2 separate regions of the Homo sapiens genome follow, and region 1 is linked to region 2. Evidence: fine-mapped expression QTL. A gene starts in region 2. The other region holds a variant in brackets. All regions are shown on one strand. Distances are from middle to middle.

The links. PIP is the estimated chance that this variant, and not a neighbour inherited with it, causes the effect.
Region 1: its variant is fine-mapped to the expression of TRPV1 in fibroblasts (GTEx, PIP above 0.99).

Annotation. Positions count from the first base shown.
Region 1 is chr17:4,585,234-4,597,302 of GRCh38, reverse strand. It overlaps SMTNL2 (smoothelin like 2), which reads right to left. Exons shown (of 8, transcript NM_001114974.2): 2 at 4,855-4,942; 3 at 4,132-4,374; 4 at 3,406-3,481; 5 at 1,976-2,158; 6 at 326-443; 7 at 1-131. Among named protein-coding and RNA genes, the nearest start is that of SMTNL2, 6.7 kb to the right of the region's middle. RefSeq lists enhancers at 3,856-4,427, 11,178-11,795. The variant C/T (reference allele first, on the strand shown) is at 7,233.
Region 2 is chr17:3,603,420-3,612,447 of GRCh38, reverse strand. TRPV1 (transient receptor potential cation channel subfamily V member 1) reads left to right here and starts at 3,037. Exons shown (of 17, transcript NM_080704.4): 1 at 3,037-3,139; 2 at 3,883-4,021. It overlaps SHPK (sedoheptulokinase), which reads left to right. Exons shown (of 7, transcript NM_013276.4): 7 at 1,476-4,208. The coding sequence ends at 1,888. RefSeq lists an enhancer at 2,646-3,147.

The DNA.
Region 1 (12,069 bases), 980 kb before region 2:
TCGAAGTTCTTCTGCCTCTGCGTGGGGCTCAGGGAGTTGTAGTCAAAGGCATCGGGGAAGAAGGAGTGTACCAGGGCGCAGAAGGCCATGCCGTCGCTCCAGCTGGAGGAGAAGTTCTGCAGGTCCACGTGCTGCAACAGGGTGAGTGGGGTCAGTGCGGGAGGGCAGCTGGGCACCCACTCGGAAGGCATAATTACCGTGGTTCCTACCCCTTAACCCCAGCCTCAGCGGGCTCCTGCCCAGGCGGGAGAACAAGGACAGGGGCGACGCTTGGTCAAGCTTTTAGCTGGGGCGTCCCAGCAGCCGGAGGGGAGCCGGGGCTCACCTGGTAGCCCAGCGTCTTGCTGCGGCACCACTCGAGCAGGATCTGCTTGATGCTGCTGGCGCTGGCCACGCCGAAGCTCTGCGACCGCTTCAGCCTGGCCCGGGCCTCGCCTTTCCCCCTGCGGAGAGACGGCAGGCCTGCTGCGGGGGCCCCTCCAGCTGCCATCTCCCAGTGCGGGTCTGGGGCAGGGGAGGCTGTCCTGGCACCACCAAGGAGGGTGCTCCCACCTGCTCTGCTCACCCAGGGGAGATGCTGGTGGCACACGTGGGCTCAGCTGTGCCCACGTCCACGGCACAGCCCATGTACCAGCGACACAGCCTCCTTTGATGGTATGTGGCAGGACCGTCCACACCCCTACAGCCCTCCAGGTCCCCTGTTTATTCCCCATCCAGGAAGCAGGGGTCACCTGGGAATCCTGAGACAGAAGACCTTGGCTCACATGGCCCTGGGCCCCTGCCTTCTGCTTTGGAACACCTTTCCCAGCTCCTTCCTCCCACTCCTCCTTCTGAGCTCCCCTCTTAATGGGGTGCCTCCTTCCCTGATGGCTCTTTCCTAGCCAGGAGGGATGAGTTCCTCTTCTGGGCCCCAAGGACAGTCCCTAATGGCCTAGGCCAGGTTGTTTGGGGCCAGTGGGGAGATGTCCGGGGTCGGTCCCCCTCACTAGAGTCGAGCAGGGACTGGCTGTCGTCTTCATTATCCCACAAGGCCTGGGCCACACCCTGCACACAGCAGGCATCAATACCACGCTTGGGCCACACTCTGCACACAGCAGGCATCAATACCACGCTTGGGCCACACCCTGCACACAGCAGGCATCAATACCACGCTTGGGCCACACCCTGCACACAGCAGACATCAATACCACGCTTGGGCCACACCCTGCACACAGCAGGCATCAATACCACGCGTGGGCCACACCCTGCACACAGCAGACATCAATACCACGCTTGGGCCACACCCTGCACACAGCAGGCATCAATACCACGCGTGGGCCACACCCTGCACACAGCAGACATCAATACCACGCTTGGGCCACACCCTGCACACAGCAGACATCAATACCACGCTTGGGCCACACTCTGCACACAGCAGGCATCAATACCATGCACTGACACGAGGACTGGCTGAATATGCAAAGGTGGGCTGGAGCCTGAGGAGCCGTCGCTCGAGACCTAGTAGCAGGCTGGAGGCCACTCGGCCCCGTGGCATCACCTTCGGTCCTTGGGCAAGACCAACCCCATGCTGGGGCTCCCAGCTCTGGCCAGGAATCCCAGTCCCCATCCAGTCCCCGGTCATGCCCAGAAACCAGAGGAGCCACAACCCCTGGGGAATGTGGGTGTGAGGGCAGCCTGGCGGCACCAGAGACAGGACAGGGGGCCTCGGGAATGGAGGAGGAGAGAGGGGCTCTCACCAAGCCTTCCTGGCTCCCTGCCTCACAGCCATCTCCCCCAACAACTGGGGTCCTCTGTCCCCCCAAGCTGCCCTGTGGCCCAGCCCTAACTTTGTGCCTTGCCCAAGAGATCTTGTCCTGGGCAACAGCGCCCTGGGGAACAGGACAGGGCTGAACCTTGCCCTGCTGCACCCACCCAAGCCCCGTCTGGGTCTGGGCACACCGTGGGGCCGGGCCTGTCTGTGAGTGGGCATCCGTACTTGCCGGCCGCCGTTTCCTGCTCCCACTTCTCAAACAATGCTTTCCGGGCCTGCGCCTCCGAGGTGCGGGGCAGCGTCTGCGACCTCACCAGCTCCCTGCGACGCTCCCCCTGCCGATGGACCTGAGTTATGGCTGGCGGCTGCGGGGACACGGGCGACTGGGGTGGTGTCACCAGCGGTGGGCTGAGGAAAGAATCGCCGAGTTGGGACCTGGGCCCAGCAGCCATCACTAGCTCACCAGGCCCCAAGGTCTCCATTGCACTGAGTGTGGACAAGGCAGCCTGCACCGTGATGGGCGCTCAGAGAAGAGGCCCCCTTGCTCCGGTCCCTAGCTGGTTTGACAGGTTTTCTGAATTGTGCTGGCTGGAGGGACTGGCCAATAGGCTCAACTCAGGAGACGCTGGGCCCGATCTGGACATAACCACCCCTTTGCAGGTGTCAATGCCTGGGGAGGACAGAGGGACCCCCTCCTCAGGCAGGAGGTGTGCTCAGAACCAGCCCCGGAGGGACCAGGCCTCCTGCCTCCACCACCATGCGATAAGACCCCCTTTGTTTTCCCCAGAACGGTTTGCCAGAAAGTCACAATTCTCCTTTTATTATTAAAGAAAAAAAAAAAAGCCAAGCCTGCTACCCTACCCCCATCCCCAATCACAGTCCCGCTGGCTGGCTGGGGGGAGGCCTGTGCCACAGGGAAGGACCTGCTCACCTGCCCCTGCTCGCAGCCCGTGGGCAGGAAGTTCCGGGCTCTGAGGGACCCCAGCTGGCTGGGATGGAAGAAGACAAAGCTCCTGTCCTCTCCCTCCTGCCGGCTGAGAGGCCTCCTCCAATATTTTTTTGTTTTTTATTCATTTATTTATTTATTTATTTATTTATTTTTTGTAGATAGAGTCTCACTCTGTTACCTAGGCTGGAGAGCAGTGGCACCATCTTGGCTCACTGCAAACTCCGCTTCCCGAGTTCAAGCGATTCTCCTGCCTCAGCGTCCCAAGTAGCTGGGATTACAGGCACCCACCACCATGCCCAGCTAATTTTTGTATTTTTAGTGGAGACAGCGTTTTGCCATGTTGGCCAGTCTGGTCTCGAACTCTTGACCTCAGGTGATCCACCCACCTCAACCTCCCAAAGTGCTGGGATTACAGGTGTGAGCCACCGCGCCCGGCCACTCCTCCAATCTTTTGACTGACTTGAAGGTCCCACAAAGAAACCAGGCTGTGACCATATTTCTCCAAATGAAACTCTCCACCGAGGCCCACTGCCTCACTCCCCCTGCTCAGACCTTCCCCCCATCCTGCCGCCCAGTGCTCCCGAGATCCAGCCCCGAGCCTTACCAGGAGGCACCAACCCCAGGGCCAACCCTGGGCGGCCTGCGTCCAAAGCAGAGAAGACACCTGGGGCGCAGCGACCCCACAGGAACACAGGCCCTGACTCACCTATTGCTGTGTTTGCTTGCTGTCACTGCCCCATAGCCAGAGCTTGGCACAGACCACGTGAAAGAGGAATTCTTCTCTGTGGAAGAGAGAGGGAGAGAAGTAACAAACCCTGGCCCCAGGGAGGGCCCGCCATAGCCTCCCTTCCTCTGACCCAGCCCTGCCTCATTTACCCGGCATCGCTGCATGGATGAGCTAACCTTCTGGGCTAAGCTGGCCCTGCCTCAGCAGACAGTGGAGGAGAAAGGAGGATGGGCACACACAGCAACAACATCAAAGAGGTCTTTTCAACTGTCCCCGCCCTGCTCTTGAGAGCACAGAGCCCAGGGCCCGTGCCATGTATCCAGTGAACACTGCTCCCAAACCCTCCCTATAGAGGCCCACACGGCTTCCCCCAGGACATACCACGGAGGACTGGCCACAGGCCCAAGTCAGGCCTGGGGCCTTGAGGGAGGGGACAGTGCCCAACGTGCAGGGCAAGAGGCCACCTTCCAACTGTAATAAAAGCCACGGTCGCCCCCACCAGGGGATGACGCTATTTCACAGCATCTCTGGGCAGTAGCCCGGGAGGATGGGCTAAGGGAAGGGGCTGACATGGCAGGCAGAGGCAGGGCTGGGCTTAGCCCCTCGTTTTCCATGTCACCCACCGACTCCCTCTCCCCAGCCCCGGCCTTCCCTCTCCCATCCCAAGGGGAGGTCTGCCCCAAGGCCACGCTCTCCAGCTCATACCGCTAGGACTGGGAGTCCAGGGCGTGATGACCTCGCTGGGGCTTGGGTTGAGGCCCCCCAGGGTGGCAGCAGACATGGGTGATAGAGCCGCAGCTGAGGTCTCCCCAGAGAACCTGTCAGAGACTCGGGTGATGGCCGTGACTGGCTGGTGGGGCAGCCGCAAGGAGAGGCTCACAGGACGAGGCCTGGGGGGATCTGGTGCTGAGAAGTTTTGGGCAATCTCAGGGGGTCCATCGCCTGGACCTGGAACATGTGACCAGCATGGGTGGGTGGTCAGCTGTGGCAGCCACAGGGGCCTGGGACCTCCCAGGAGGGCTCTAGCCTCCCTGGGCCCTCCTCCCACCTCCTCTAGGAAGGCCTCCCTGACTGCTCCAGCCTCTCTGACCTCCCCTACCAGGGATATCTTACTGCTCCAACCAGAATTGATTTTTCCCAACTTCCCCTCATGGCCAGCTTAATAAATACTAGTCGGCTCCTCAGCCTCTATTTGCTTTCCTCTAGAAACAGGAGAGCTCACTACCTCCTGAGATCTCCCAACTTCCCTCTGTGTTTCACAAGTTCTACTGAATGACGCTGCTCTCCTGGCAGCCTCTCTCCCTGCTGGGGTTCAGGATAGAGTCCCCCCGATGCCAGGCCAAGGGCCAGCCTGGCACAGATACCTGACCAAGGCCTTACTTAACCCCCAAACCTACCCAGCCACCCCTCCTCTGCCGTCAGCCCTACCTGCCCCCGGCTGGTGCCCATTTTCCATGATGCAGGAGTTTGAGGTCTTTCTCATCTCCGACTCACTGGCCTCATCGTGATCCAAACTCTACAGAGACACAAATGTCACCGAGACCCCATCAGCTAGGGCCAGCTGCCCACCCCCAAAAGCTGCCCACCCCCAAATCCCCTCCCGTTCTGGCAAAACACCAATCATGTTGAGAGAAAACAGCCCCCAGGAAGAAAGTGACGGGCCAAGTCACACAGCAAAAGCTGGGATGGCCCCACTCCAACTGCTGAGCCCCTGCGATCCTGGGAGGCAAACACCTCCACTGGGCTCCTCCCAGAGTCCCAAAAAGCTGAGGACAGAAGTCAAGATGGAGGGTTCCAATGACATTAGGCCCCCTCACCTTTTCCCCCAGGCTGGACCAGATGATGGGGTCAGGAGTGCCTCGCCCCCTGCCCCTCTCAGCTGGGCCAGGTCGGCATGGCTACCCGTGCAGGGGCAGCAGGAACCAGTGGCACCAGGTCCTTCTGGGCCAACGATGAGCTACGGAGCCCTGATCACGATGAGATCTTTGCATGGGAGGCGGGGACACAAGATTTACCCGGCTATGCAGAGTGCAAGCGCCTGATCAGCTCCGTGCGACTCATCCATCCCAGCTGGGCAGTAGTAGTGGGTGGGGCAGGTGGGGGCAGACAAGACAGCCAAGGCCAAGAGCCAGTGGGGAGCCTGGGATCCAGGCTGTGCTGCCACCCACCCATGTGACCTGGGCCACATCAGTTCCCCTCTGGGTCTGTTTCCCTGTTTGAGAAACGGGAGCAGGCTAGGCAAGTGCCACTCGGCATCTACCAAACATCCAGCCCTTTTTCCGGTGCTATCCTTATAGCAACACCTTCTAAACACCACTTATAGCAACTGTCCTCCCCGGTAGGTGCTGCCAGAGCCATTTCAGAGATGGGGCCCGAGGACTCCCAGAGGGCATGTGCCCTGCCCAAAGTTATACAGCAAAAAACAGCTGGCACGTGTGGCCAGGGGAGAAGTCCTCAACCTTGGTCCTGCCCTCCTCACAGCCAGGGCGTGTGAACGGCTGAGAGTGTCTGTGGGGCTGGTGGGGGCTCCACCACGAGCCCAGGACGAGCGGCTTGAGAGGTCGGCTGTGCCTCTCCCAGATGCCCCCTGGTCTACAAGGTTCCCAGGCAAATGATGTTGCATCCCTGGCCCCAGATGGCTCAGCTCCTCTTGCAACCAGTGCGGGAGGTGCCACCCTGCCATTGGGGAATCAGTCTGGGAGGGGAGCCAGGCTGGTGAACAGAGGGGGCCGTGTCAGGATAAGGATGCCTCACACAGGCTTCATCTGACCCAGTGGGGCAAGGAGGGCTTCTCAGAGGCAGGGGTGCCTGAGCCACATCCAGAGTGAGCCCGGTGGAGGAGCAAGGGAGGGCACTCCCAGCAGAGTGATTAGTGTCTGCTTTTGCAGAGAGACATCAAGGCACAGGTATCCTGATCATGCCCGTCCAGGACGCAGGCAGATGGAGAAGTGCCCTGCCGCCCAAGCTGCCTGCCCTGCCGCCCAAGCTGCTGGCCCTGGGTACTTGACGCCTTAGACAAGAAGGAGCCCAAGGTCCTCGGCTCTGTGTTTCAGGCACACCCTTCAGAAGATGCCAGAGAGTGGAGACCAGATGGCAAGACACTTCACTAGTCCTGGGCAGGAACCTGGGGAGGGGAGATGGGGCACTGGGAGGGCCACGGGCAAGAAGGACTCGGAGCTTTGGGGAAAAGGGATCTGGCTGGGAGACTGGGTGGACATGGAAGAGGAAGGGTGCCAAGCCTCTCCCAAGCCCAGACTTGGTGGGTCAGGGCAGGTTTAGGGGCTAAATGAGGGTTTCAGTTGGGACATGTTGAGGGCCTGGGGCACCTGGAGCATCAGGGAGCTGAGGAGGTAGCTGGATTTTTGAGTCTGGAGTTTAAGAGAAAAGAAGGACGAACATGGAAAAACAGGAGTCAGGGGCATGCACTGGGCTCCTGGAAGCCCAGCAGAGGAAGAGCAGCTTAGGGGCCCTGGGATGAGGCCCCCACATTTCAGGAAGCAACAGAGCAGTCTGCGGAGAATGAGGAGCAGCCAGAGACGTAGGAGGAGCCCCTGAAGAATGGTGAGAAAGCCAAGGCCAGGAAGGAAGGGAGTCAAGAAGCCAGGCACGGGGCCAGGCGCGGTGGCTCACGCCTGTCATCCTAGCACTTTGGGAGGCCGAGGCGGGTGGATCACTTGAGGTCACGAGTTCAAGACCAGCCTGGCCAACGTGGTGAAACCCCATCTCTACTAAAAATACAACAATTAGCCAGGCATGGTGGTGGGTGCCTGTAATCCCAGCTACTCAGGAGGCTGAGGCATGAGAAT[C/T]GCTTAAACCCAGGAGATGGAGGTTGCAGTGAGCCAAGATTGCACCACTGCACTCCAGCCTGAGCAACAGAGCGAGACTCTGTCTCAAAAAAAAAAAAAAAAAAAAAAAAAAAAAAAAAAAAAAAAAAAAAAGCCAGGTGCGTCCAAAGGCAGCCTGGGGTTGAGGAAAAGGTGAAGAGGAAATCCAACCAGGCATCCATTGGGTTCAGCAAAAGAAGAGGTCATGGGTGATCAGAAGCGTGGGGCGGGGGACAGGGGGTTGGGGGACAGGAGATGGCCTAGCAGAGGGGTCCCAGAGAAATGAAGACAGCGCAGTAACTTTAGCCCTGAGCGAAGCCAGGGGAAAGGGTCTGAGGGGTTTTTCCAGAAGGAAGAGGCAAGACCACATTCATAGGGTGAGAAAGGTGAGGGGAGCATCTGCAGAGCGGGACCACTGGGGAGCTCACAGCAGACAGGACCCAGAGCCTGGGAAGAGCCAGCCTTGGAGAGGAGGCGACCCCTGAGCTCTTGATTCAAGAGTGGGAGGAGGAGAGGCCAGGCCCACTCTCAGAAACGCAAGAAAAGCACAGGGCGTCTCCCAGCACGCAGAGCAGAACGGGTGCCCCTAGAGCCACGCTGCGGCCGTGTAGACCATGTCGGCAGGGGGAGGAGAACCAGCCAGTCCAGCTGGAACCCCGGCCCCCACAGTCACCAGGCTCTGGGGTCTCCGTGCCCCCTCACCCACCCTGCTCTCGTCTGACAGGTTCCACAGGTCCAGGCGGGGCTCTGGGGGGAAAGGCTGAGGGTGAAACCATTTTCCCAGGAAATATGTTTCTCTATAGGTGGGTGGGAGGCCCTCCGCAGATGCCTGTCCCTGCACGTTGCAGCCCCTCAACAACCCCCATGATGCCCCAGGGGACCAGGCGCTACACCAGACTGGGAGTAAGTTCTATCCTGGTTAGATCACTGCTAAGGGTTCTCCGGCAAAGGGAGGAGGGGAAGGGGCTGGGCTAATGCAGGCTGGGGTGTAGGGCTGAGCCCAGACTCCCAAGCTCCCCTGCCCCACGACTAGAAGCATTCGTCACCTGGGGAAAGGGGTCTGCCCGTGCCTTAGGTCAAGGCGCAAGGGGCTATTCTGAGACCATCCTCCAACCCATCATCACACAGATGGGGAAAGCAAGACGTGGGGTGGGGCAGGGGGAACCCCTAAACCCCACACCATGACTAAAGGTAGTGGCAGAGCCAAAGTACGGGACTCGGGTCTCCCACCCCAAACCAGGGCTCTGTCCACAAAGTGCTCTGGCCTTCTAGGGGGCAGAGAGGACAACTCAAGGCAAAGTTGTCTTCCAGGACCTGGGTCAGTATGAGCCCCGGCCCCATGGGATCTGTCTTAGCCAATGAGTGTGAGGAAAAGGCGGGGGACTGGGGTCACCACCCAGTGGGACCTTCACAGAACTCAGAGGTCTTCAACCAAAGGGCTGGGCTGGAACGAGCTGTCCCCGCAGAGTCCCCAGTGGGTTACTGCTCTCCTTTGATGGGGGCAGCCTGTCGCCGTCATGCGGAAGGAAACCAGGGAGGGGCCTCGGTATGCTGGGACCGGGGCAGAAATCGCTGGAGAGCCCTGGGGCTGGGGACAGGTCCTGTTGAGCTGGCCTGGTACCCCCCAAGATTCCCCAGCTCGGCTTTGTTTTGAGAAAGGGGAGGTGCCCCATGAGGGAGCCCAGGCCTGAGGCACTCACGGGAAAGGCGGAAGGGTGATGAGGTAAGTCTGATTTCAGGGACCTTCTTATTGGAAAAGCTTTTAGACATTTTTGTAGGGGAAGGAAGAATATTTCAGGCCTTCTGGGTGCTGCCTGATCTGCACGGGCCCATCCATGGGGACGAGACCCACGCAGGGCCAGAGCCCCATCCTAAGACAGTTCACACTGCTGACCCGGCCCTCCTCCACTCACAACACCGTTTGAAAGGACTTAATTCAAACTTCTCCCTAAAGCATTTAACTCTCTTATCGCACAGTGTGTCTGGGAAAGGAAGGCAGATAAGGCGAGTCTGGCTTCTTTCATGGTCGGGCCTCTGACATGGGGCTCCTGGCAGCTGTTCCTGGGGCCTCCGCTGCCTCGGGCATAGGGACCCAGTGGCTCCAGCTCAGCTGAGGATGACATTTCCAGGCCACAGCTCTGGCCCAACCTGCTGGGGCCTGGGCCTGGCCTCAAGCTGCCACCATCCACCCCCGGCCCCAAGCTGGCTCTCAGCTCCCTGCTCCCAGCCAGACAGGATTACTTGATCAACCCTTCCTGTATTGAGTTCAGGGGACATTTATATATTGGAGACAATCTACCTCCAATCCTTCAGTCCCCAGTTTGAAAGGAACTGGGTCTCTAAATGTCATTGCTTGTTACAGAGGGGTAGTGTGACACCAACCTCTACAATGCCAGGTAGTACAGCCATCCCTGGCTCATGTGGATGGGATGAGATTGTCCCACCCAGACCCCCACTACACAGACACAAAGTCTGAGAGGTCAGACACCCAGCAGCCTGGTGTGGGGCTGTGACTCTATGTCCATGGTCCACACTCCAGTCTCACCCTGAGCCCCGGCTCCTTGAGTGTGACCAAGCTCTTGATCACATCGTGCTGGTCACAGGACACGAGCCAGCACATGGGGATGGCTCCACACAGTCCCTCCTCTCAATGCTGGACACTGGTCTGGAGGCTGTGACAATGCTCCTGAGACGGAGGACAGCAAGAGAGATGGGGATTGGTGCTTCGGGGGTCAGCCCAGCGGCAGCTGCCTCAGGCCCCGGGAGCCAGGGCTCAAGGGGTGCAGAGCCTCTAACCCAACTGGGGACCATAGCCATGTTCCACCCACAGTGCTCAGCTACCCTTGCTGCTCATGCCCCTGGGTGCCTGGGTCTCCATCTTCACTCCCCAACAGGCCGACGCATCTTCACTGACCCCAGCCTCTTCTTCCAGGAGGGCTCCTTCTCTGGTTTGCTGAGAGTGCACTCAGGTCCTCCTCACTCCCTGGCAGTTCCCCGGTCTGGTTTTTAATTCCTTCAGACTCTTTGCTTCTGCCCAGAGAGCTCCCTAATCTCCAGGCTTGCTCACTGTGTGGAGCACCAGATCCATGAATCCACCTGCTCTGGGACAGCTTCACCTGGAGTTCCCATAGTCCCCTCATGTTCAGCACGACCCGGGTGGAACCCAGCATCTCACCCCAGATCTGTGACCCAGCAGTCCCCCAAGTCAGAGCTCCCCTCTGAGACTACCCCATCTGCTCATTCCCCCTCTGAAACCCTGTCCAAGGCAGCCCCTCTACACACCAAGGCCCACGGCCCAGCTCAGACCTTTCCTTTCTCCTTGGACCATCACAATCAAGTTACCCACCTCCAGCCACCCTCCACCTTCCATCCACCCCGAAGAGGGCTTGCCAGACACAAAGAAGACCCTCATCCTGAGCTTCATCCACCAACTCCTAACCTAGTGGACTAGCTTGGTGCCAGTGAACAATGGCTAATCTCCATTGACAAAAATCACGACTGGAGAGAATTCCCTCTCTCTCTCTCTCTCTCTCTCTCTCTTTGTGTGTACACACACATCTACATGTATATGTGAACCTGACATTTTTTTTTTTAATTTGGACAGCTGCTGCTATGAGCAGACAAATAGCAAATGCATGTTCAAATAAAACCTCAGAAACAACCGATGACACAGTTGATGAGGCACGTGTGAGCTCACAGTGGTGATTTTAGACCATGGTCACGTAGAGTGTCATGTTCATAAGACAGACTTAAGTGTATCCACATTTCCAGACATTTCACACGGAGCACTGGGACACTCCCGGGTTCTGCTACCATGACATGTTTAAGAACTTCTTACAGGCCGGGCAAAGCCCAACTCCTCTGCCCAGCACACTAGGGGCATTCGCCACTGCCCACTCCACTCGCATACCTCGAGGCTGCACTCACCAGTGAGTACTTTCAGCCTTTCTGAGGCTTCCTGCACAGCCCCCACCCCACCCTCATCTGCACCAGTAGCAGCAAGCCCCAGGCCCCCAGCACAAAGCCTTGCTGAGATACCCACTGAGAAGGGGCTAACTACTGTGTTTGGAGCAAAACATCTCTGGCTGCCCAAACTTGGTCTGGGGCCATCTCCCACCCTGGATGGGACCTCCAGGGGGAAGGCCCAATCTGATACCCTCCTCCAGGCCCCCTAGGGTCCAGCCCAGCCCACAGCGGGAAATCTGAGAGCCCCAGGGATTGCACCAAGGAGGGAGCAGGTGCAGGCTACACAGCCCCAGATCCTGGGAACCCAACCCGAGAGCACATGCCTGATCAGGATGGAAAATCCCACCCAAGGGCCACTGCACACACCATGGACACATTCTAACTGCTCTGGGTGGCCCATGCGCAAGGTAGTGACTGGTCCACGTCGGCCTCCGCCCTATCCCCACGTGGTGTGGGCCTCTGGCTAGTCACTGACCCGAGGAATCTAGACACGGCTCAAGGCGGGTTTCCACCTCTCTCCCTTCACGGTAAGGGATTTACCCCCTGCGATGGAGAGTTCCCAAAAGCCGCTGCTGATCGCGTCCCCCTCGACCCCCCTCCCCACCCATCCAGGGGCCTGAGTTCTCAATCTGAGTTAATCAATAACCAGAGCCGTCAGGCCTCAGTGAAGCGGCAACGCAGGGGAGCGTGAATGGAGGGTGGGGGTCAGGCAGGGGTGTCGACCATTCCAACATGCCCCGCGTGGCTCCAGGCAGTGCTGAACAGTCAGGGGCCGGACTTCGGCGCCCAAGCCGTTGATGTCATGGGACAGAGGAGAGAGGGAGACAGGACTCTGAGCAAACAGAGCCTGGCT
Region 2 (9,028 bases):
AAGGCTTTTTTTTTTTTTTTTTAAGACTGAGTCTCGCACTGTCACCCAGACTGGAGTGCAGTGGCACCATCTCAGCTCACTGCAAGCTCTGCCTTCTGGGTTCAAGCGTTTCTCATGCCTCAGCATCCCAAGTAGCTGGGACTACAGGCACACACTGCCATACCTGGCTAATTTTTGTATTTTTAGTAGAGACAGGGTTTTACCATGTTGTCCAGGCTGGTCTGGAACTCCTGACTTCAAGTGATCCGCCTGTCTTGACCTCCCAAAGTGCTGGGATTACAGCGTAAGCCACCGCGCTTGGCCTTTTTTTTTTTTTCGTTTGTTTGTTTTAAGAATGCAGAGCTGGCGGGGCATGGTGGCTCATGCCTGTAACCCCAGTACTTTGGAAGGCTGAGGCAGGTAGATCACTTGAGGTCGAGAGCTTGAGACCAGCCTGTCCAATGTAGTAAAACCTTGTCTCTACTAAAAATACCACAATTAGCCAGGTGTGGTGGTGTGGGCCTGTAATCCCAGCTACCTGGGAGGCTGAGGCAGGAGAATCGCTGGAACCCGGGAGGCAGAGGTTATAGTGAGCCGATAGGATATGTGCCACTGCACTCCAGCCTGGGTGACACAGCGAGCCTCAGAAAAAAAAAAAAAAAAAAAAAAACCCGCAGAGCTAACGTGGTGTCAGGGAGAAAAGTCCGATCGGGATTCTGGCTTGACACTGAAAAGCAAGTTGTAGGATGGTCAACTCATCCTTCTTCCTTGGATTTCAGGTGCCCTGTGCACATAACGAGGGTGGCCCATTCAGTGATTGGTCCTGGATCCTGGGATTTCTGATGCTGCTAACGACCCCAATGACATCCATGATGATAGTTTTGTTTGTTTGTTTGTTTTAGATGGAGTCTTGCTCTTGTTGCCCAGGCTGGAGTGCAGTGGTGCAAGCTCCGCTCACTGCAACCTCTGCCTCCCAGGTTCAAGTGATTCTCCTGCCTCAGCCTCCTGAGTAGCTGGGATTACAGGTGCCTGCCACCACGCCCGGTTAATTTTTGTACTTTTAGTAGAGACAGGGTTTCACCACGTTGGCCAGGCTGGTCTTGAACTCCTGACCTCAGGTGATCTGCCCGCCTTGGCCTCCCAAAGTGCTGGGATTACAGGCGTGAGCCACCACGCCCAGCCAATGATAGTTATTAGTCTGTATATGCATTTGGTCCCCTTGGTTAAGAAGCCTGTGTTAGGGGTAGGGCTCATGGCAGCACTTAATGAGACCTCACCCTGATGTCTGGCTGGGGTCTGCACTGAGACAGCGGGCGGGGATCCAGGGCAGAGTGTAGCTAGCCTGGCTATAGCAGTCCCTGAGCCCAGAACCACCAGCTGCAGCGGGAGGAGAAGCAGCAAGTAGCGCTGTTCCCACCCTGTGGGAATTCTCTGCCATGTCAGCCTGCACTGAGGGGGACGCATGAGCTTACACAGATCTTCTCTGTCTCTGGCAGGCCTGGAGGTTGAAGAATCCACTGTGTATTCACGCATGATTCAGGCAGCTGTGCAGCAGAGAGATACCCACCTGACCATCACCCCGACAGTGCTGGGGGAGAGGCACCTGCCGGACCAGCTGGCCTCAGTGACCAGAATCTCCTCCTCCGACCTCTCCCTGGGGCACGTGACCCGGGCTCTGTGCCGAGGCATTGTTCAGAACCTGCACTCCATGCTTCCGATTCAGCAGCTCCAGGAGTGGGGCGTGGAGAGGGTGATGGGCAGTGGGAGTGCGCTGTCCAGGAATGACGTGCTGAAGCAGGAGGTGCAGAGGGCTTTCCCTTTGCCCATGTCCTTTGGGCAGGATGTGGATGCAGCTGTCGGGGCAGCTCTGGTCATGCTCCGGAGACACCTCAACCAGAAGGAATCTTAGACAGCAAACTCTTTCGCCAAACGACTGCTGTGAATTTTACCTGATTAACATTCCTGACACCATCTGTGGGTCATCCTTTCCCTGGACCGTTCAGTGGACAGCTTTCAAGCAGTGCTTGTTGTGAGGTCCCATCTCGGCCAAGAACTTACCTTCAGAACATACTCTAATAATGCAGCCAGGAGCCGTCAGCCAGATCCCAAATGAGTGCCTTCCGAAATTGACCCACCTGGGAGCTATTTACAAATGTCCATGTGGGAGAGAGAGAGCATGAGAGCACAGTAGCCCAGCCTGCTGGTCAGCAGGCTCATCTGTGGTTCACCTGTAGACAGAGAGCAGATCAATGTGTACTTCAGACACCAGAAAGTCTGGTGGCTTTGGTCCCAAGTGGGAAAAGAGAACTGCCCCATGCCCAGCTTGTGATTATCGTTTTTGGAGACCTGAAGCCCACACTCGGGTCGTATGGACTTCTGGAAAAGTTCTTGTCTCCTGGACTGAACCATGTGACCGGAGGCCCCTTTCCTAGTCTCATCCTCCCCTGGCTGCAGATGCTTAGCTGGGCCAGGGATTGACCCAAGCGCGATGCAGCAGGCAGGCTCAGAAGACGATGCGGGGCTGTGTGCCGGCCTTCTTGCTGCATGTACTCAGCCTCAGGAGAGCTTGCTGCACCCAGGCCGCCCAGGTCTTCACAGCACAACTGCCTGGAAGGCAGGTTGCGAGAAGGAGAGGCGGATGGCATGAGCAGCAAGGGGGACCGATGCTGTGCAGCTCACACCACTCCAGAACCTGACAAGGCACCAGCAGGACCCCTTGCCAGGAGCATGTCTGTGCAGCAGTGTTTTTGCCCCTGCACATTCCAGAAGCCCTCATGGGAAGGGATGCAGCCAGGCAGACTCCTGCCAGATGGGGCAGGTAGTTTATTCAAAGAGAACTCTGTATCCCATAGGCCCAGGCTCTCCTTTCGCTTGGCGTGGGCTTTGCTGGCCCAGTGTGTGCTCCTGGCTCAGCAGAAACATCCATTTGAGTTGGCATCCCTGTAGGGATCCCAGAGCGTTGTAAGCCTTCTTGTGATTGGTAGGGATGGCTGTGGGGTGGCTTCCAGGAGGGGGCCACCATTGCCGCATCTACTTCTAGACTCCCAAAGGAGCCCAGGCTCAGGCAGGCCTGGCCCAGAGTCACGCTGGCAACCACGAGTTTGGGAAGCAGTCGTATTCTCTCTCTCTCTCTCTCTCTCTCTCTCAGTATCCATGACAGGTATGAAACATATTGTCTCTTTATAAATGTCATTTTACAAATTATGTGATTATCTGGAAGCTCTAAGATGAGAGCAAATGCCTGATCACTCTGGCCAAATGTCAGATACTAAAGCCCATTCTTGGCCGGGCATGTTGGCTCCCGCCTGTAATCCCAGCACTTTGGGAAGCCCAAGTGGGTGAATCACCTGAGGTCAGGAGTTCAAGACCAGCCTGACCAACATGGGGATACCCCGTCTCTACTAAAAATACAAGCCGGGCGTGGTGGCGCATGCCTGTAATCCCAGCTACTCAGGAGGCTGAGGCAGGAAAATCACTTGAACTCGGGAGGCAGAGGTTGCAGTGAGCTGAGATCGCGCCATTGCACTCCAGCCTGGGTGACAGAGCAAGACTCTGTCTCATAAATAAATACAAAGCCCATTCTTCCAGAGTCTTGTGCCTTAAATAAAACACACCTCTCTGCTGTGGGAAGACTGTGCAATGGCACAGCCGCAGAGCTTGGTTTGGGAGGTTGAAGTGCTCTGGGGAGAATTCGTAGATCATCCTCAGAAAAGCCTTGCCCTGGTGTTCTACCAGAAAAACGTCTCCCAATCACCCAGGAAAGCTGTCCACAGTAGTCCCCCCTTATCCACGGTGTCACTTTCCATGGGTTCAGTTATCTGCGGTCAACCACGGTCTGACAATATTAAATGGAAAATTCTTCAAACAGTTCCCAAGTTTTCCCTTGTGCATTGTTCTGAGCAGTGTGATGGAGAGTCTCTGCCGTGCCATCTGGGATGCAAACCGTCCCTGTGTTCCCCACGTCCAGGCCGTAGATGCTCCCCGCCGGTCAGTCACTTAGTCGTCAGATCGCCCGTCCTGGTATCACAGTGCTTCTGTTCAGGTCAGTCTTTTTTTACTTCATTAGGGCCCCAAAGCACCAGAGTAGTGATGCTGGTAGTGATGCTGGCTGTTCGGATATGCCAAAGAGAAACCGTAAGGTGCTTCCTTTAAGTGAAAAGATGGGAAGAAAACAGTCATATGCTGAATCTTCTATCTGTGAAATTCTAAAGAAAAAGAAATTCGTGCTAGTTTTTTTTGCCTTTTTTTTTTTTTTTTTGAGACATAGTCTCACTGTGTCACCCAGGCTGGAGTACAGTGGTGCAATCTTGGCTCACTGCAACCTCTGCCTCCCGGGTTCAAGCGATTCTCTTGCCTCACCCTTCTGAGTAGCTGAGATTACAGGCTCCTGCCACCACGCCTGGCTAATTTAGTTTTAGTAGAGATGGAGTTTCATCATGTTGGCCAGGCTGGTCTCGAACTCCTGACCTCAGGTGATCCACTTACCTTGGCCTCCCAAAGTACTAGGATTGCAGGCGGGAGCCACTGACCCCAGCCTCATGCCAGTTTTGCTGTCACACCTCAAACTGCAAAAGTATGGTCACAGTGTGTGATAACTTTTATTAGAGTGTATTGTTAAAACCGTTCTACTTTGGCTGGGTGTGGGGGCTCACACCTGTAATCCCAGCACTTTGGGAGGCCGAGGCGGGTGGATCACCTGACATCAGGAGTTTGAAACCAACCTGGCCAACGTGGTGAAAACTCGTCTCTACTAGAAATACAAAAGTTAGCTGGGCATGATGGCACGCGCCTGTAATCCCAGCTACTTAGGAGGCTGAGGCAGGAGAATCGCTTGAGCTCTGGAAGCAGAGGTTGCAGTGAGCTGAGATCGCACCACTGCACTCTAGCCTGGGTGACAGAGCGAGACTCTGCCTCAAAAAAAAAAAAAAAATTGTTCTACTTTATTGTTGTTGTTAATCTCTTACTGTGCCTAATTTGTAAATTAAATTATATTACAGATATGTATGTGTAGAAAAAACATGGCATATGCAGGATCCAATACTAGCCTTGGTTTCAGGCATCTATGCAGGGTCTTGGGACATATCTCCTGTGGATGACAGGGGGCTACTGTATTTTTTTTTTCTTTTAGGCAGAGTCTCCCTCTGTCGCCCAGGCTGGAGTGCAGTGGTGCGATCTCAGCCCACTGCAACCTCCACCTCCCGGGTTCAAGCAATTCTTGTACCTCAGCCTCCCGAGTAGCTGAGATTACAGGCATGTGCTACCACACCTGGCTAATTTTTGTATTTTTAGTAGAGATGGGGTTTCACCATGTTGGCCTGGTCTTGAACTCCTGACCTCAGGTGATCCACCTGCCTCAGCCTCCCAAAGTGCTGGGATTACAGGCGTTAGCCACCATGCCTGGCCTGCTACTGTAATTTTTCTTTCAGCCAAATGAGTTTAAGATGCTGTCATTGCAGCCCTGAGGAAGGCTGCATGAGAGAGAAGAGTAGGCTGAGTTTACCAGCGTCCTTTGTCTTTTGGGAGGAGCCAGGCCGTCTAATCTCAGAGTGGCAGCCTGTCTCGCCTGCCCAGCATGCAGTGGATGGGGTCTGCAAATGTAAGGTTAGGAACGGGATGGACATCCAGCAAGCTCAGGCAGCCCAGCCTTGTGCCTGGTGTGGCCCCGGAACTCTCTGTCCTCTTTCCAGACTATGCATTCACTCTGCCTCTGAGGACTGAGCCTTGGAGGGTCCCAGTTTGTCAATAAACAGGGCTGCTCCTGCTGCTTCCGTTGCCTGAGGCCTGGAGCCTCCGTCTAGGTGGGGGATGAGTGCAGCTGCCTGAAGTCACAACCACGTGCACAACCCACCCTCCTTCCCAGGAGGTGCCAGTAAGTGGTTTGAGGCCGGCATGCTTCTGAAGAAGTGGTGAGCGGGGCTCCTTTGCTGGCCGTCAGTATCCCGATGCTATGAGCCCACGGCAGGGCTGCACCTTCCCCCCGATCCGCTTCGGCCAGTGGGACGTGCACAGGGAATGCCTGTCACTCCTGGGCAGAGGTCTTTAGGAGCCAGTGAGCTACTTGCCACACACCCTTCCCTTTGCCACAAGTGACTGGCAGTGCCCCAGAGAGTGGTAGCTCTGTCAGCCTGGGTCCCTGAGTGAGGACAGTGTGGTGTAGAGTTCTCACCAACCAGCGAGGGACGTGCAGTGGGACAGAGAAGTAAGCGCCCTTTGGTGCAGTGCCTCACACCTGTAAACCCAGCACTTCGGGAGGCCGAGGAGGGCGGATCACTTGAGGTCAGGAGTTCCGAGACCGGCCTGGCCAACATGGTGAAACCCCGTCTCTACTAAAAATACAAAAAAATTAGCCGGGCATGGTGGTCGGCACCTGTAATCTCAGCTACTTGGGAGGCTGAGGCAGGAGAATCGCTTGAGCCTGGAAGGCGGAGGTTGCAGTGAGCTGAGATCATGCCACTGTACTCCAGTCTGGGAGACAGAGCGAGATTCTGTCTTTAAAATAAATAAATAAATAAATAAATAATAAACCTTTGATGTTTGAAGCCACTGAGATTTGGGGGTTGTCACCACAGCAGAGCAGCCTCAGTAGCCTGCACCTGGGACGTCTCCCATGCACCCAGCACAGACCCAGGCAGCCACATTTTCTGAGCGCCCAGTAGTAGCTGGGTGTTCTCTCAGAGACTGCCCCCCGTTGAATTTCCATCACGAGGCAATGGAAAAATACCAACAGTTGGTTACATAAACAGACCCTAGGAAAAGAAAAAGACACAGACAATGACAGCACCTCTATGCCCAGAGGGAGGAGAAATTCATTCTTTACACAAGTCACATTGAGCTAAACCTCCAAGGGTTTCCATCCATGGTTACTAACGACAGTTAACATTTCTTTTTGAGTACCTGCTGTGTACTGGGATCTGATCTAAACTCTACTTGTTTGAATTCATTGAATCTTTTTTTTTTTTTAAATGGAGTCTCACTCTGTTACCCAGGCTGGAGTGCAGTGGTGCGATCTCAGCTTACTACAACCTCAGCCTCCCGGGTTCCAGCAATTCTCATGCCTCAGCCTCGCGAGTAGCTGGGATTACAGGTGTACACCACCTCACCTGGCTAATTTTTTGTACTTTTAGTAGAGACGGGGTTTTGCCATGTTGCCTAGGCTGGTCTTGAACTTCTGGCCTCAAGTGATCCACCCACCTCGGCCTCGGAAAGTGCTGGGATTATAGGCATGAGGCACCATGCCAGGCCTCATTTAATCTAGAAGGTGGGTAGTGTTATCCCCATTTCACACATGGAGAGATAGATAAACAAAAAAGTTAAGTAACTTACCTGAGATCACAGTGCTAGGATTCAAACCCCAGAGCGAACCCACTCTCTTTAGCAACTAGGCAGTGGGGTCAGGCTAGGTAAATGTGTTTACATTAAAGTGATCGTCATGTCCAGAGTGTGACAAATTGGTGTAACTTGGTCATAGTGTGAATGGAAGGATGTTTATAGGAGTTGTGGCTGGACGTGTTGGGCAGACTGTGAAGGGTCTTGCATGCCCGCCTGAGGGGATTGGACTGTCTCCTGTAGACAGTGGGGTTTGGAGGACTGGGGCCTTGGGAGTGTAGCTGACAGTGTGGACGCTGGATTGGAGGAAGGGTGTTCTGGGAGACAGGAGGCTGTAAAACAGCCTGGAGAGATGGTGGGCCAGACCCAGTTCAGGGCAGGGTAGGGGACTCCAGCCCACCAGCCGCTGCTTTTCCTCCCGCCACACACTGCCTGCCTCTGGGCCTTGACCCCGTCCACATCATGTGTATGTGGCTTTCATGTTCTCTACTTTTCTCTTCTTCTTCTTTTTTTCTTTTTCTTTTTCTTTTTTTTTTTTTGAGACTTTTTGAGAGTCTTCCTCTGTTGCCCAGGCTAGAGTGCAGTGGTGCGATCTTGGCTCACTGCAACCTCCGCCTCCTGGGTTTAAGCAGTTCTCCTGCCTCAGCCTCCTGAGTAGCTGGGATTACAGGTGCCTGCCACCACACCCAGCTAATTTTTGTATTTTTAATAGAGACGGGGTTTCACCATGTTGGCCAGGCTGGTCTCAAACTCCTGACCTCAGGTGATCCGCCCGCCTCAGCCTCCCAAAGTGCTGGGATTACAGGCATGAGCCACCACGCCTGGCCTATTTTTCTCTTCTTCTGAAGTGGACTGAAAGCTCTTTGAGAGCAGGTGCCTAGGTGTCCTCAGCCCTGTCCTCCTGCACCTTAGCTCATGCCAAGGCCCATGTTTGGAATGTCCTCCTTGTGGGGCAGAATCCTTCTCCTTGTCCAAGGCCCAGCCCAAATGGCATCTGCCCTCTGCAAAGGGCCTCCCTGGTGACACATACGCCATCTGATTACAACTGCAGGGGAGGCCAAGACCCGGCTCAACATTTGTTGTTGGCATGGTCTGTTGGCCCCAGAGCCCCTGGCCTGTGCCTGTTACAGGGTGCCCTGCCCTGCCTAGTGTCAAGAGAGAGCCTGTGCACATCTTCCTTTCCTGTCCATCGTGGGCTTCTTGAGCGCAGAGACCACCCTGTTGACCCTACTGCTCTGCTAGGGGATTTGTATAGCACATGGTGGGCCCTCAGGAGAGAGGGTCTCACCTGGCCTCTCCCCTCAGCCACAGGTAGATGGACAGGCCAAGTCTTTGAAAGTGGGAGAGTCCTGATACAGAGATGCTCACTTGCGTGACTCATCAAACATTAAGCAAACCTTGTTTTTTTCATTAAAAAACAATTAGTCATAACTTCGAGCTAATGGCCGGATACAGCTCAGCAGTCAGCAGATGTGGTCCTCAGGCTGAAATAATGAAGATGAGAGCAGTCATCTCTCATGCCTGCCTAGAGCTTTACCAGGCTCAGAGCCCATTCACACCCACTATCCTGACTAATCCCAGAAAAGCCTCGTAAAGCAGGTAGGGCAGGTGTTCTTGGCTGTAATTTTGTGGAGGAAGAAGTAGACCCAGAGGTTCAGCTACCAGCCGGAGTCCATACAGCCGGCATCTAGCACACGCGGGCCTCTTCCATCCAAGGTCCAGG